2 separate regions of the Homo sapiens genome follow, and region 1 is linked to region 2. The links come from fine-mapping of genetic effects on gene expression. A gene starts in region 2. The other region holds a variant in brackets. All regions are shown on one strand. Distances are between the middles of the regions. Region 1 overlaps CCM2L (CCM2 like scaffold protein). Region 2 holds the start of CCM2L (CCM2 like scaffold protein).

Evidence for each region. PIP is the estimated chance that this variant, and not a neighbour inherited with it, causes the effect.
Region 1: its variant is fine-mapped to the expression of CCM2L in whole blood (TOPMed, PIP above 0.99).

Annotation. Positions count from the first base shown.
Region 1 is chr20:32,029,608-32,037,937 of GRCh38, reverse strand. CCM2L (CCM2 like scaffold protein) reads right to left here. Exons shown (of 10, transcript NM_001365692.1): 9 at 8,100-8,238; 10 at 5,758-6,937. The coding sequence ends at 6,624. Among named protein-coding and RNA genes, the nearest start is that of HCK, 18 kb to the left of the region's middle. RefSeq lists enhancers at 2,606-2,785, 6,200-6,727 and a silencer at 6,489-6,538. The variant C/G (reference allele first, on the strand shown) is at 4,151.
Region 2 is chr20:32,007,043-32,015,372 of GRCh38, reverse strand. CCM2L (CCM2 like scaffold protein) reads right to left here and starts at 4,935. Exons shown (of 10, transcript NM_001365692.1): 1 at 4,889-4,935; 2 at 302-469. The coding sequence starts at 4,918. It also overlaps the pseudogene RNA5SP481. RefSeq lists enhancers at 3,084-3,675, 4,586-5,113.

The DNA of each region.
Region 1 (8,330 bases), 23 kb before region 2:
TGGAAACAGATAGTGTCTATAGAGTTCAGTAAATACCACAATACTGGAATAGTGGTTTTTGAAAAAATTGCTCTGCTGTAATTCATATTCATGACATAACATTTAGGACACATCATGCAGAGAAAGTCTCCTTCCCTCTTTATTCTATAGCCACACACTCCTCCAGCTCAGAAGCACAACTATAACTTGTTTTGTGTACCTTCCAGAACTATTCTATACTTAAAAGACATTTCCCGCCTCCTTAAACAAAAATACAGCACTATTCAAAGTGCATTGTTCTGTACTTTGCTTTTTTTTTTTTTTTTCACTTACTCTATCTTGGAAATAATTCTGTATCGGTGCACAGAGCTACCTAGTTCTTATTTATGGCTGCATGGTATTTTATTGCCTGCATGAGCCACAGTTCATTTAACCAGACCCCTATCACTGAACATTTGGTTTATTTCCAAACTCTTGTTATTAGAGACAAAGCTGCAATGACTTTCCTTGCACATTGGTTTCCACTCGTGTGGGTATAAATGCCGGAGAAATTCTTGGCAGTGGAATTGTTGCATCAAAGGGCTCCTGCATCCTGGTAGATATTGCTCAGTAGGGTTTATACCAACTTGCTCTCCCACCAGGAATGTGTGAGAGTGTCTGTTTCCTCACACCTACACCCACATAGTGAGTGATCACACTTTTCCAAACTTTGCCAATCTCTTAATTGAAAAATGGTTGCTCGGTGTTGTGTTAATTTGCATTTATCTTATGAGTGAGGTTGAACATCTTGTCACACGTTTTAGAGTCGTTTGTATTTTCTGTGAACTGTCTGTATAAATAATTTGCCTATTTTTCTATTAGGCTGTTGGTCTTATTTACTTGTAGGTCTTTACACATCAAACGCACTCCCCCTTTGTCTGCATGATAGGCTTTGAAAATATTTTTTTTGAGAACAGTCTGCTTTTAGATATAAATGAGAAGTTGAGAAGTTTCTGCAGATTGCATCATTTTCTGCACGTTGCTGCAGGGCTGCCCAGTGGCTGAGGCATCAGGGATACCGTGTAGGGCTCTTAAAGGTGATGTTAGAAGCCAGGTGGGGGGCCCTGGGGACGGCGGGCAGGGAGTGGGGGGACAAGGAGGTGGATGTTAGCTCTTGCATTGGATAGAAGGGGCTGCCATAGGAGACAGTGAACTCCCCAAGGTAGGAAGTGGGCAGAACAGGCTGGCCTGGCTTTAAGACCCCTCTGCCCCTGCTCTGAAATACCTGAGGATAAGCAACAAGTCAAGTGGGAGGACCCACCAAGAGGGCCATCAATTTCTGGCCATTTAGACCTGATTGGGTCGTTACTGCATCTGGAAGCTCCTAGTAACATTTAATAGTAATATAAACTCCTAGAATGTAAACTCCAAGAGGCCAGGGTTTAAATGCTAAATAAATGGTTGTGGAATGAATGAATGAATGAACGAATGAATTTGGTCAAAGAATGTGAGGGGCTACTATTTCTGAGTGGGGGTGGGGGTAGGCAGAGTTCTCTTTCTCTTCTTTCCTCTTTGAACCTACTCTCTCCTCTTCCTTCCTCTTACCCCAGCTCAGTCAGGTCTTACCATCTCTCATGTGGTCCTGGTTCCAGCCTCCTCCCCACTTCCCTGCTTCCAGACGCTCCTCTGTTTTCCTATTGATCCTCCTCTCCAGCAGCTTGATTCGCTTCAAGAAAATGCAGGTCCCCTGGCTTGTTCCCAGGTGGGGCACCTTTGTTCACGCCTGTAATCTCAGCACTTTGGGAGGCTCAGGCGGGTGGATCCCTTGAGCTCAGGAGTTCAAGACCATCCTGGGCAACATAAAGAGAGCACGTCTCTACAAAAAAAATTTAGAAATAGCCAGGCCTGGTGGCGCACACCTGTAATTCTGCTACTTTGAAGGCTGAGAATGGCTTGAGCCCAGGAGCTGGAGGCTGCAGTGAGCTTTGATTGTTCCACTGCACTCCAGCTGGGTGACAGAGTGAGAACCCGCCTCAAACAACGATAACAAAAACAACAATAACAACAACAAACATTAGATAGCCTCCCATTGCCTATGCTTCCTAGCCTGCCCTTCAAGGGCTTCTAATCTATCCACTTCTCTGGTTTCCTCTCCTGCAACTCCTACCCACCCACCTCGTCCCCCACCTCACACACTCCGTGTTCCTCCAGCTATCACAATGGTCACTAATTGAGCACTTTCTACATATACTTTTACGTGAAATATCTTAAGACTCATGACAATCTATGGGATCTACGAGGGTGAGGCTATTATCAACCCCACTTTACAGATGAGGAAACCAAGACCCAGGGACATTTTAGGGGCTTTCCCAAGGTCACCGAACAAGCAGATGGCAGAGCTCGGATTAAAAACCCTCCGACCCTCTGGCCAGGGAGCCTAAGTGCTGCACGAGTGCTAACCGGTTGCCAGTCCTAGAGCACGCCATGCTCCTTCAAGCTCCCCTGCCTTTGCTTGTGCTGGGTCCCCATCTGGAGGGCTCTCTCTTCTATTGTTCACCCACCAAAAACCTTGTCCTTCAAGCTCTCGCTCATGGCTCACCTCCCCTGTGAAACCTTTTCCAGCTTCCCCAGAAAGAGCTGGTGTCTCACTCTTTGACTTTACAATTGAGAACTTTGTGCTATGATTATCTGGGAACTGTTTTCCCCATCAGTGTGCCCCTCAGTGGGCAGACTGTGCTGTATCTCCCTCTAGTGTCTTGTGCAATGCCTGGCACAGAGCAAGTGCCCTCTAAATGCTTGGCGGCTGAATGACAGTGGCCCCAGGACTCCTGCTCCTGAGCACATAGTTGGGAAGGACTGCTGGGAGCTGCCAGTGGAAGTGGGGAGTGGGTAGGAAGTTTCAGGGCCCCACCTTGGGAGAGGCGTCCATCTACGGCAGCTGGAGACAATTTTACCACTCACGTTTGGGCCAAGACCGTCCCCAGGGGATCCAGCTGGTGGGGAAGTTCCATACTTGCACTACCCCTAGAAGTCCTTGGGAACCAGCTATCCCACCCCTAGGGGGTTTTCCCCTCTTGTGATGTCAGGAACTGAACCAACAAGGGAAGCAATTCCTGGCAGGGTCTCTGGATGCTACAGGAGGAAGTGTGGCCAGAGTCTCCAGACTCAGTGCCTGGGTTGCCCCAGACAGTGCCCTTTGGACCCCAGGAACTAAGGGGTTACATGGCTTTGGTAAGAGGGTAGTTCCGGAGCGGGTGGGGACTTCCTTGGGGTGTGAGGGAAATTACCCCATCCCTGGAGCTGTGGGGTAAGAACTGTCTGTCCCAGTGCCTCTCAGCAGCCCTGTCACTGTGCTGTGGCTAGGATTTTCGGCAGTTTTTGAGCTTTTCTTGGAAAGCCCCAAGGCCTTTAAGAGAGACTCCTATATCTTTGGCCCCTGTCCCTACCCAACCAACTGTTCCCTCTCCGGCTGCCTTGCTCAGGAACTTACTAAGGCTCCCTGTAGCCTCAGGTCGGAATGCCTCAGGCTACGGCCACTACATCCCAAAGTCTCAGAGACAGGACAGTAGAGAGGCTAGGGACATGGGCTCTGGGTTAGCCAGACATGAGTCCAAAGCCCAGCTCACTGTGTGACCTTGGGGTATTCACTTCACCTCTTGAACTCCAGTTCCTTCATCCAGAAAATGAAAATAAATAAAATCGACAACCTCAAAATTAAGGAATTTGCTCAATAGAACAAGTTTGCCCAATGGAAGCCATCACAAATCAGTTGTTCTCAGAGCGGTCCCTGGACCATCAGCATCACCTGGGTACTTGTTAGAAATGCAAATTATTGGCCAGGCACGATGGCTCATGCCTGTAATCCCAGCACTTTGGATGGCCGAGGAGGGCAGATACCTGAGGTCAGGAGTTTGAGACCAGCCTGGCCAACATGGTGAAACCCAATCTCTACTAAAAATACAAAAATTAGACAGGCATGGTGGCGCATGCCTGTAATCCCAGCTACTCAGCAGGCTGAGGCACAGAGGTTGCAGTGAGCTGAGATTGCGTCACTGCACACCAGCCTGGGTGACAGAGCAAGACTCTGTCCCCCCAAAAAAGAAAAAGCAAATTTTCAGGCCCTTCCCCTTCTCTTATGGAGAATCTCTAGGAGTGGGGCTCAGACATCTGTGTTTTAGCAAGCCTTCCAGGA[C/G]ATTCTGATGCCTGCTGAAGTTTGAGTACTGTCACAGATAAACTTGACAGAAGGCAAATATATTAGGTGAATATACCTGGAACATCAACATCCAAAAGGGATTAATATCTAAAATTTATAAACTACTCTTGCAAATCAATGAGAAAAAGACAGGAAGCCCAGTAGGAAATGAACAAAAGATATGAACAAGGAAGTCACAGAAAGGAAAGCTCAAATGGCTGACTAGTATAGAAGGAAGTTATAAATTTCAGGATTAACAGAGAAATGCAAATTAAAACAACTTGCCACCTTACACCCACACTGAATGCAAAGTTACAAAATCAGATGATGAAAAATCTGATGAAGATGTCGGGAAACAGCATCCTTCACTCACCGTTGGTGAAAGCCATTCTGGAAGAAGTTAATGAAATTCAAAACCTGCCCTGTGATCTAGTAATTCCACTCTTGGATTTAGAGCCCAAAGAAATGCTCACATAGGCCCATAAGTTTCATGTACAAAAATGTTCATCAATCACAGTGTTGTTTGTGGTAAGAGGGAGTTGGAAGCAACCTGGGTGTTCATCTCTGGGGAGATGGATAAAGAAAACAGCGGATGCTCAACTCGAAATATTTTGCAGCAGTTGGATGCAACAGTGAGATTTTTCAACAGCACATATGTAGGTATTTAAAACATTATAGGGTGGCTGGGCTTGGTGGTTCATGCCTTTAATCCCAGCACTTTGGGAGGGCGAGGCAGGAGGATCACTTAAGCCCAGGAGTTCTTGCAGTGAGCTGTCACTGCACCATTGCAGTCCAGCCTGGGTGACAGAGCAAAAACCTGTCTCTAAAAATTTTCTTAGTTTTCTTTTTAAATAGAAAAACATTACAGAGTGAGAGAAGGAATAGAGTGAAATTCTTATGTAATATCATTTATACAAACACACACACAAAGCACTGTGTAGTTTAGGTCCAGGGACATATATCAGCACATAGGGTTAGGCGCTCATAGTAAAGAGGGAAAAGGAGTGTGGGGAACATGTGGATCAGGAGAGGGTAAAATAAAACATCAGAAGGGCCCTACATGGACCAGTGATGATGGGATGATCATTTACCACAAACCAAGTATGAATTATGGAACTCTTTGGACCTGGAGTCCTAATAACATTTTTTTGAAAATTGCTAACAGTGCCTATTTTATGGTGTGTACAATGTGTCTGGCCATGGAAGCCTTTGCAAGGTTTTACAAACACATTTTGGATCTCCTATGTGAGTCTCTGGCCTCCTCTCAGGCCTCATCCCTTTTAGCTTTCCAGCCTTTACTCAGGCTGTGCTGAATGCTGTCCTTATCCTGACTTCTCTACCTCTCCAACCTTTCCTTCCCATTTCTTTGACTACCCCAGACTCCCAGATAGCTGCCTGTGGAGTCTTGGCTATTTCTTGTTTGTGACTTGAGCACAGAGCTAGGCTGTAACAAGGCTGCAAGGGAACAAGTACTGTTTCTTCTTCCCAAACAGTGAACTCCCCTGAGGATCTTCTGAATAGCTCACCACCACTTCAGTTGGGGTAGGATGCACCCAGACATCTTTTGCTTATTACAAGGCAAGAAAGGTAAACTGAGTCATAAAATGTTTGATGTGGAAAGGAACAACATTTATTGAGCTCTTATCGGGTGCTAGACCCAGTTCTAAGGTCTTAACCCTCAGTAATCCCTGTGGCCACCCTGTTAGGTGGATGGGGGCTGAGCTCACTGGACAGATGGGGTAACGGGAGGCACACAGAGGTTACGACACTAACCAGATAGAGGCTCCAGATCCTGGAGCTGAAAAAACCCTTGTTTGGGGTCTTAAGACCAGAATGGGACCCAGATCATCCCCCTGAGTCAACCCTGGGTGGAGGAAACCGTCTACTCCACACTGACTGTACAAGTCAGGCATCAGGGGATGGGAGACCCTGACATTTAGAGCCTTAAAAAGACCTTCTACACTGTTTAGTATGGTCAGTTTGAGGTCATATAAGGAGAATCAGGAGATTCCCTCAAGCCCCGTCCTCTCTTCTTGAACCATAGTTTCTCAATCTGTAAAATAGGACCGAGTTCTGGAAATTCTTTTCTCAGTCGGCCAGCAGGTGGAGCCCACTCTTCATGCCTTCCTCAGCCTCCAGAAAGCTGCGGCGTCCCGGGGAGGAGGGTGTGTTCTGGGGCTGATCCCTCTGGACTTCTGGGACAAAGCAGGATCGCTGCTCAGCCCCAGCCCGGCAGAGCGGCCCAGGAGCCCCGGGTGACTGCCCCGGACTTCAGGGCCCGGCTTCGCTTTCCCCCTGCAGGACACTCCAGGTACTGCATGGCCCCGGGCCCCAAGGGCAGGGAGCGAGACCCTGGAGTGAAGACCCCCCGGCCCCGCCAGGTGTGATGGGGGGGCCCTGGGGATAGGGTCCCCGAAGCAAAGCTGAGACTCAGAGGTGGGCTGCTGAGCCACGCCGTCCGCAGGGGCGGTGGCTACAGGTAGTTGTCTTCTGCGGCGTCGCTCCCGCCCCTGGAGCCCCGGGGCTCATCCTCGTCGTCGTCGTCGTCATCGGGGGCCAGCGCCTCGATGTCGTGCGTGATGTCAGCCAGCAGCCGGTGGAAGGCCTGTGCCTCGGGCCGCTGCGCCGCGCCATCGTAGCTGCGCACTGCGGAGGCCGACGTGGAGCTCATGCTGCGCTTGATGCGGCCGAAGCTGTCAGTGAGGATGCCGCCCTCGCGGATGCCCACGCCCTCCAGGAAGCCCTCGAAGTAGCCGATGTCCTGGTCCGGGATGAAGGGCCGCATCCCTGCGAGCCGAGGGGCATGGTGAGTCCCCAGGACACGTTCCCTTTCCCTTCCACAGGGGAAGCGTCCTCTCTGCAGATCTGGGTGCAAATCCCTGCTGTCACTCACTGGCTGTGTGGCCTTGCCCAAGGTCCTTAACTGTCTGAGCCAGCGAATAACGACACAGCGCTCAGCACACAGTGAATGCTCACTACATACTAGATTACTGTACTTTTATTATTATTATTATAGCCTCTGCCTCCCGGGTTCAAGAGATTCTCATGCCTCAGCCTCCCAAGTAGCTGGGATTACAGGCGCACACCACCACGCCCTGCTAATTTTTGTATTTTTAGTAGAGACAGGGTTTCATGTTGGCCAGGCTGGTCTTGAACTCCTGACCTCAGGTGATCCGCCAGCTTCAGCCTCCCAAAGTGCTGGGATTACAGGTGTGAGCCACCTCGCCAGGCCTATTTTTGTTATTATTAGTACCATCATTATATTCCCATTGATTAATTATGTTGAACCTCATTTTCCTCACCTGTAAAACAGATAATTGCACCTGTTCTCTGGGTAGGGATGTGAGGATTAAATAACAAGGTACTCAGCACATACTGAGCACTCTGTAAACAGTTTGTTTTATTTCCATTCCTACTTACTAGCTATGTGACCTCAGTCCTTTACTTTGTAACTCTGAGTCTCAGTTTCCTCACCTGCAAAATGGGGACCATTAATAGTATCTACTTCTCAGAACTGGGGGCATTTAATGAGATGATGCTTGGCACAGGGTAACTGCCAAGCACATGTCAGCTTATTCGTATTATTCCTCCTGTTATTATTAGCCCTCCTTACTAGCTGTGTGACCTTGGACATGTTCCTTAGCCTTTCTGAGCCTCAGCTTCCGTGTGGGGTAAGATGGGAAGAATCAGTCCCTCTCGCAGCTTTGCTGTGAGGATGAAATGGCCACACCACTGCTTAGTTCTTCTTATCAACAGTGTCTCCCAGCTCTGACAAGTCCTTTCCCTACTCTGCACTTTGGGCTCCTCATCTGCCCTGTGAATCTCATGATCTGGGTTTCATCAGAGGCTGAAAGATAAGGAGAAAACATTTGCAGCCTGGTGCCTGACTGGGATGGCATGGACCAAGCAGGGGCCCTAGCTGACCTCTGGGGGTACAGCGGGGGCTCACCAAGGAGGAGGAACTTGCGCCGGTCTCCGTAGAGCTTCAGCAGGCCTGTGCAATAGTCCTGGATGGGCAGCCCCAGCCGGTACTCCCGCAGCAGCATCGCAAACTGCTGGATCTCGAGGGGCCCCAGCTTACTCCGCAACTATGTGGGGGACACCATTCGAGATCAATCCCAGGAAGCAGCGCCACCCAACCCCTGCCTGAAAGGCCCAGAGCCTTCCCTAAGGGCATGTT
Region 2 (8,330 bases):
TCTCCCTTTCTGTTATGTCAGTTGACAAAAGATAGGACTTTTCCACGCACAGAACACTCTCCCATCCACTCTCCACTGGGGGTAGGTTTTGAGCCTCATGTTGAGATGGGAACACTGAGGAGGCTCAGCAGATGGAGGTCACTTGCTGAAGGTGGGGGCAAGGCTGACATGAACCCAGGCCTCTTTCCAATGAGCCACAACTTCCCCTGTGTGAGATACGGCTGATCAGAACTTGGTGTCAAGGAGAAGTGAAGGTCTCCTCACCCCAAGGTTTTCCCACCCCTTCTCATCCTGCACGCACCTTGACCTCTTTCTCCAGGTAGTCACACAGCAGAATCTGGGGGTCGATGAGGTAGTCGGGGGGATAAAGGGGCATCGAGTGCAGGGGCCGGCGGCTCACGCTGCTCCTACAGGCTGCCCGGCGCCCGGCCTTGGGGAACACCAGCCTTCGGATGGGGGATACAAAGCCCTGGGGAGGAGAGGAGGAATGAGAGTGATAACAGTGGCTGCTTTTATTGAACTCTTACTATGCTCACTTTTACTTACATTACCTAATTTAATTCTCACCAAAACTCTGCAGAAGGGGTACCTCTGTAAGTCCCATTTTACAGATGGAGAAAGTAAACCCTAGAGAGGAACTAACTGATAAAGTCACCAGCTAGTAGTGGTGGAACCAGTAGTTCACCTTGGGCATTCTGGATCCAACGACCTTCTTTCTAAACACCCAGGTGACAGTGTAGCTCCTGCCAAACAGGTTTGAGGAATGAGTCTAGGCTGGGGCAAATACAGAAAAATGTTAGGATTCAAGGCCAGGCGTGGTGGCTCATACCTGTAATCCCAGCACTTTGGGAGGCCAAGGCGGGTGGATCACTTGAGGTCAGGAGTTGGAGACTAGCCTGGCCAACATGGTGAAACCCTGACTCTACTAAAATTACAAAAATTTGTCAGGCGTTGTGCCAGGAGCCTGTAATCCCAGCTACTCGGGAGGCTGAGTCAGGAGAATCACTTGAACCCAGGAGGCAGAGGCAGAGGTTGCAGTGAGCCAAGATGGAGCCATTGCACTCCAGCCTGGGCAACAGAACAAGACTCTGTCTCAAAAAAAAAAAAAAAATATATATATATATATGTACACACATATATATAAATCATATACATAAATATATATAATATAGATTAGGATTCAATGTGGTGGAGTGGTGGTGGGTGCATAGCTATTTCTTAGGCTATTCTCTGTGCTTTCCTAAAAGTTATAAATTATTAATAAGTACATTTAAGTAGAATCCAGAGGCACCTGCATAAAAATGGCCTGGATCAAGGTTAAAGGTGTAAATTCTGGGGCTCAGCCCAGACCAGCCATCTGAATCTCAAAAGAAAGTTTGAGTTCCATCTAGAACAGCATTTCTCAACATGAGATTCCTGGACCAGCAGCACCACCTAGGAACTGAGAGAAATGCAGATTATCAGGCCCCATCCCAGACCCACTAAATTAGAAACTCTGGGAGTAGGGCCCAGCAATTAGGGCTTAACAAGCCCACCAGGTGCTTCTGATACATGCTCAAGTGTGAGACTGCATTTAGAGCAGTCGCTCCCAGCCCTGGCTATCCTTTAGTACTACCTGGGGAAGGCCAGGCGTGGTGGTTTACGCCTGTAATCCTAGCACTTTGGGAGGCTGAGGCAGGAGGAGAGCTGGAGCCCAGGAGTTTGAGACCAGCCTTGACAACATGGTGAAACTGTCTCTACAAAAAATATGCCAAAAAAAAAAAATTAGCCGGGTGTGGTGGTATGTACCTGTAATCCCAGCTACTTGGGAGGCCAAGGTGGGAGGATCACCTGAGCCTGGGAGGTCGAGGCTGCTGTGAGCTGCGATTGCAACACCGTACTCCAGCCTGGGTGACAGAGTAAGACCTTGTCGAAGGAACAAAACAAACAACCCCCACCCCCCCACTCCACACACACACGAACTACGGGGGGAGCTTTTAAAACTTCAGATGTTCAGGTTACACTCCCAACCAACTGAATAAGAAATTCTGGGACTGAGACCCAGGCATAAAATTTTTTATTTTTTAATTTTTTTGAGATAGGATGTTGCTCTGTTGCCCAGATTGAAGTGCAGTGGCACAATCATAGCTCACTGCAGCCTTGATCTCTTAGGTTCAAGCGATCCCTCTGCCTCAGCCTTCCAAGTAATTGGGACTACAGGTGTGTGCTACCATGCCCTGCTAATTTTTTAAATTTTTAGTAGAGATGAGGTCTCACTGCGTTGCCTGGGCTGGCTTGAACTCCTGAGCTCAAATGATTCTCCTGCCTTGGCCTCCCAAAGTGCTGGGATTACAGGTGTGAGCCATTGGGGTTAATGAGCTCGGTCCATTAAGATTTTTTTAAGCCTTCTTAGGTAATTTCAAAAGGCAGCTCAGCTGAAAACCACTGAGTGAATGTGTGGTGTGATTACTTAACTGTGTAACAAGGCAAATGTGAGTAAGACAACCTCCCTGCCTGCAAGGAGCTCACGTTCTTTCCAGGTAAACAGAACACAAGTCCACAAATACATCTGTTCATTTACTCATTCATTCAGTAAACATTTACACCTGTATGGCTGGACTCTGCTGGGTGCTGAGGATTCAGTGGAGACCTGGATCCTATCCTTGCCTCCAGGGCTTGTGATAAATGACCTAGACTAGTGAGTTTCCAACTTTATCTGCCCTGGAGTTTTGATTCAGTACAGTTGGGTTGGAGCTTGAGACTGTGCATTTCTACCAAGCTCCCATCTGGTGCTGATACTACTGGTCTGTGCACCACGCTTTGAGTAGCCAGGATCTAAACCGGTGGTTCTCAAAGTGTGGCCCCACAGCCATCAGCATAACCTGTGGGTTATTAGAATTGCAAATTCTTTCTGACTCAGCGATCCTCCCACCTCTGCCTCACAGTAGCTAGGACCACAGGCATGCACCACCACCACACCTAGCTAATATATATTTTTTAAAGAGATGGGGTCTTACTATGTTGCCCAGTCTGGTCTTGAACTCCTAGGCTCATGCAATCCTCCTGCCTCAGCCTCCCAAAGTGTTGCGATTACAGGCGTGAGTCACTGTGCCTGGCCAGAAATGCAATTTCTTGAACCCCATCCCAGGCCTATTGGCCCAGAAACTGGGGGTAAGACCCAGTGATCTGTGTTTTAATGAGCCCTCAGGTGATTCTTATGGGTACTCAGCTTATGTTAGAACCCATATCATGGAGCCAGGATGGGGTATGTAGCAACTTTAAGGAATGAGAAGAAACTATCTGGGAGAAAGCATGCCAAGCAGAGGGCACAGCATGTGCAAAATTCTGGATGCCTCAAAGGCTGGATGAGGGTGAGCCTGGAGAAGCTGTGTGCAGTCAGTCTGCCGTGGCTAGATTATGAGACGAACATATCTTGAATGCCGGCTATGGAGCTGGGACTTTGTCTTGCGTATGTGTGTGTATTAGGGGTGGGGAGGGGTAAGTATTTTTGTTGGTGGCCCTGAATGGCTCAGCTCTGCCCACCTGTCCAGCCCCATCTGCCTCATTCTTGTCCCCTGGGCCCCCACTACACAGTCCTCCTTCAGTCCCTCTGGCTTGCTATGTGACTTCCCACTGTGGGGTTTTGCACATGCTGTTCCTCTGCCTCAAACACTCTTCCCTACCCACTTTCCTTCCACCCGTCAGTTCTCGACTCAAACTGATCAGTTTCCTCCAGCACTGAGTATGGGACCTCCTATGATTTTTAAAAAATTTTTATTTATGTATTTATTTATTTATTTTAGACAGAGTCTCACTCTGTCACCCAGGCTGGAGTGCAGTGGCGCGATCTTGGCTCACTGCAACCTCTGCCTCCTAGGTTCAAGCTTCAGCCTCCTTAGTAGCTGGGATTACAGGCATGTGCCACCATGCCCAGTTAATTTTTGTATTTTTAGTAGAGACAGGGTTTCGCCATGTTGGCCTGGCTGGTCTCGAACCCCTGACCTCAGGTGATCCACCCGCCTCGGCCTCCCAAAGTGCTAGAATTACAGGTGTGAGCCACTGCACCCGGCCCTTCTATGCAATTTTACATTAACTTATTTATTGCTTTAAAAAAAGAAATACCTGGTGCATAATAGGCACTCAATAAATGTCTATTAAAAGAACAAACTAAGAGAAAACATGCACGTATGTCTTGGCTCCCTTCTGAGCCCTCTGTGATTCATGTGGGCACCTTTTAGAACAGCCCGGACATATGTTTCTGGTGGGGGTGGGGTAGAGGGGAGGGTGGAAATGGGGGTAAGATGGAAGTTAAAATCAGAGCGCCTCCCTGAACTCCAAAGACAACCAGGTGAGACACCCAGAGAAGCATACTAGAAAACTTCAGAGTCAGAAGGGGTGAGGGGAATGGCTTCTGGCTGACGCCTTACATACGCCCTTGTAGAAAGGTGGGAGGGGCAGGGGGCAGGTGGGAGACTCAAGCCTGTGTAGGCAACATCCTATCGGAATTGCCCTGGCTGAGTCCTTCTGTTTGGGGCAGTGACGAGCAGGAGAATGGATCTGCTGGGTGTCTGTCTGTCCGTCTGTCTGAGAGGCTGCAGGAGGGAGCTGCGGGGAACACCAGGGAAGCAGGTGTGGAGAATCTCCCAAACTGAGTCCGTCTGGCCAGGTTTCCTGAGAAGGTCCCTGTCTGTCCACGTTAGGGATGCCAGAGGCCACTGAGAGTGGAGAAACAGGGAGTTTAGAGCCTGACTGTCTGGCTGTCCAAGAGTGGGAAGGAAGTTACTTCCAAATGAGAAGAAAGGCTCCACTTATGCCCCTCGCTACCGACCCCCCACCCCGCCCCAGTTTGCCCCCTTCCCCAGCTTTGGGGACATTCCTCTCCCTTCGTCCCTCCCAACCTCCCACCTACCTTCTTCCCTTTCTTGACTTCATATTCCATGGTGAAATGTCCCCTCTACTCCTGCCACCCTCCTGGCCATCCCTTCCACCCCCACATCCAGTTCCTTTGTTCTTTTTCCTGCCTGGTCGGAAACTCCACCAGCCCTGGAGTTCCTGCCCCTCCCATCTGATGGGGAGGGCAGGGGGTGTGGAGGACACAGCCTTGGGACCCTGCAGCTGAAGGGTGGAAGCCCAGGCAGAGCTGACCTGAGGAGGGAGGCTCAAGGCCTCTAGCCAGAAGGCGGGTTATTGGGGGAGCTTGGGAATTGGCCAAGGCTGGGAAAGGGCCCCCCACATTTGAAGTCCTGGTTTGGAAAATTCCAAGTTCCAGCCCTACTTCTGCCACTGACCTTGTTGTGTGACCTTGGCAAGGCAAGTCAGTTCCCCCTGTCACAGCCTGTTTCCCCCTCCTCTCTATAAGTTGGGAGTCAACACTGCCTCCCTCCCTAGGCTGCTGTGGTGAGAAATGAAAAGGTGGATGGAAAGTGCCTTATAGAGAGTATTGTAGCCAAGCAAGTTATGATTTTAAAAAATTAATCATTACTATTAAGGGAGGCAGTATGCGTGGGCTTTGAAGATAGGCTGCTTGAATTCGAATCCTGGCTTTGGCACTTACTAGGGTTATGACCTTTGGGAAGTCCCTTAACCACCAGTGCCTCAGTTTTCCCGTCTTTAAAATGAGCATAATACTAGTTTAACCTCATAGTGACCTTGCGGGGATTAAATGCACCTAGAAGAACTTCTGGCACATATTAAGTACTCAGTAAGGCTGGGCGTGGTGGCTCACACCTGTAATCCCAGCACTTTGAGAGGCTGAGGCAGGCAGATCACCTGAGGTGAGGAGTTCGAGACCAGCCTCGCCAACATGGTGAAACCTTGTCTCTACTAAAAATACAAAAATCAGCCGGGTGCGGTGGCACATGCCTGTAATCCCAGCTACTCTGGAGGCTGAGGCAGGAGAAGCGCTTGAACCTGGGTGGTGGAGGTTGCAGTGAGCTGAGATCCAGCCATTACACTCCAGCCTTGGTGACTGGCTGAGACTCCATCTCAAAAAAAAAAAAAAAAAAAAAAAAAACTGAAAAAAAATAAGTGCTCAGTAAACATTAACTGTTTACCTGCTTAGTGGTTGTCAAATTAAAGAACAAACAGAGGCTCTCTAAAATAAAAGATGTTTCACTTAGGAATTAAGCATTGCAGTGGGAATTACCCATATGCCATAGTAAGCGATGTGCATTTTCAGGGAGGTGGGGGGAAGACAAAGATTTTTAAAGGAAAAAAATAAGGATTACATTATTGTTTCTGAAATAATTATTCTTGATTGCAAAGATCAATAGCAAGGGTGATGCCAGTCTAAAGTTGGACAGGCAGTTGCTGGGCAGATGTCCTTGCGGAAGTATTTTTTGTGCAAGGTTTCAATGGCCTTTGTGCAAGGTTGTGATTTTTGTAGTCTTTTTTGTTATCAGTCTTGTTGTTATCTGTTTTGTTATCAGTCTTATTTGTTATGCAAGCATGAAAACCCTCTATGGCCTTCCCCAGCTCTATTTGTCAAGGTTTTCTTAACATTAGTGACTCCATTTTTATTCTGACCATGTTCATAGGGTCTTGAGCTGTTTTGCTCTCTTGGGAGTATATTAGGGAGGCAAGGTCCCCTTTGTGGCTCTGTGCTGAACACTTTACATATTTTAACTTACTCACAGTGTTGAGTACCATGATAGTACCTATTATACAGATTTTTGAAACTGAGGCTGAAGTTCAGAGCCTGGTTCAAGGAGGTCACACAGTGAGTAAGAGGAGGACCTGGGATTTCTGGCTGGTCTGGATCTGAGCCTAGCGTTCCTTACCTCTAGGACCTATGCATTCTGCATGCCCCACCCAGGACAGATGGAAAGGTTCTGTGTGGCCCATCCACACCTTGCCAAGACACCTGGGTTCTGGAGACCTAAGCTCTGGAACTGATTTGCTGTATATGACCTGGTCCAGGTTGCTCATTGTAACCTCTCTTGGCGTCAGCTTTCTTATCTCCCATCCAAGTACTAACCAGGCCCGACCCTGCTTAGCTTCCGAGATCAGACGAGATCGGTCAGCTTTCTTATCTTTCCAATGGGAATAATAATTTCCCAAAGCCCTGCTCTGCTCATCAGAGCTGTGGCCAGAAAGACACAGGCCATGGATGGAAGAGCAGTTAGAAACTGTAAAGTACCAATGCACTGGATTCTACTGAAAGGCTTTTTCTGAAAGCCTGGTGTTCAAGATCAGTGCCCTGAAGGGAGGGTCAGAGCTCCCCAACGCGCTTCTGGGTGTGAGAGCTACAGGAGACTCCTAGCCACTAGCCCTTCCTCTTCCTTCCCCTCCCTTGGAGGGGAAATGGCCCAGGTTGCTTAGTGCTGGCTCTCACAGCCACTCCCTCCTGCTCCCCTGCATCCTGCCGGGTCACCCCCCAGCTCAGGAAGTGAGATCTCCACTCAGCCTGCCAGGCGAACAGGAAGAGGCCAGGGTGTGCTAGCCAATTCCTGACTCTGCTCTGGATGTGAAAGCTCCAACTTAACCCCTTGAGCCAGCCCAGAATTCCCACCCTTGGAGCAGCAGCCGGGCATGAGACATGTGGTCTCTTGCTCTGGCATCTCCATGACTGGCTTTTGCAAGCCTTTTCCTCTCTCTGGGCCTCAATTTCCCTGTCTATAAAATGGAAGCTTATATTATTCCTGGACTAGCTCCAAACATCACTGAACTGCTGGGAATCTCAAATAGGACAATAAGTGTTTTGCATGCCACTAAAATTAGAAAACTATCTCTGTATTCCCTGCAGTGCTCCCTGCAGAGCCATAACAGATGAAGTGCTTAGTAAATGTCAGCGGAAGTGGTTGGAGATGGTGGATATAGGCTCAAATGTATATGACCTTGAACACATTACCTCATCTCTTAGCGCCTCAGAGCCCTCACGTGTCAAAAGCAGGATAATGGCAGTACCTGCCTTGGAAGGCTGCTGCAGGGATTGAATGGGAACAGAAGTGCACAATGATAACATATTATTAAAATTAGCTTGTGAATCAAAGAAGAGATGAGCAAAACAAAGTCCCTGCTCTCAAAGACTTAACAATTGTGGCAGATAGGATTCATCTCTTTTGAACCACCTCCAGTTGATTGGCAGGGGCTGCCTGGAGGGCTGCGTAGAGGATTATAAAAACCGGATCTACTCCCAGCAGGAAGAAGGGATTGATTATCAATGCCTGCCATGGGCAGGAGTGGGGATATTAGCAGCAGGTGGTCAGTGCACATGCTGACCATGATCTGGTTAGAGACAAAGACACACAAGCCAAGAACTCTGGTATCAGGCCAGCGACTTGTTTGGGAAAGGCAGAATCAGGAGCCATTCCCCAGGCCGGTGGCATTCAAGCCAAACCTTGAAGGGTGAA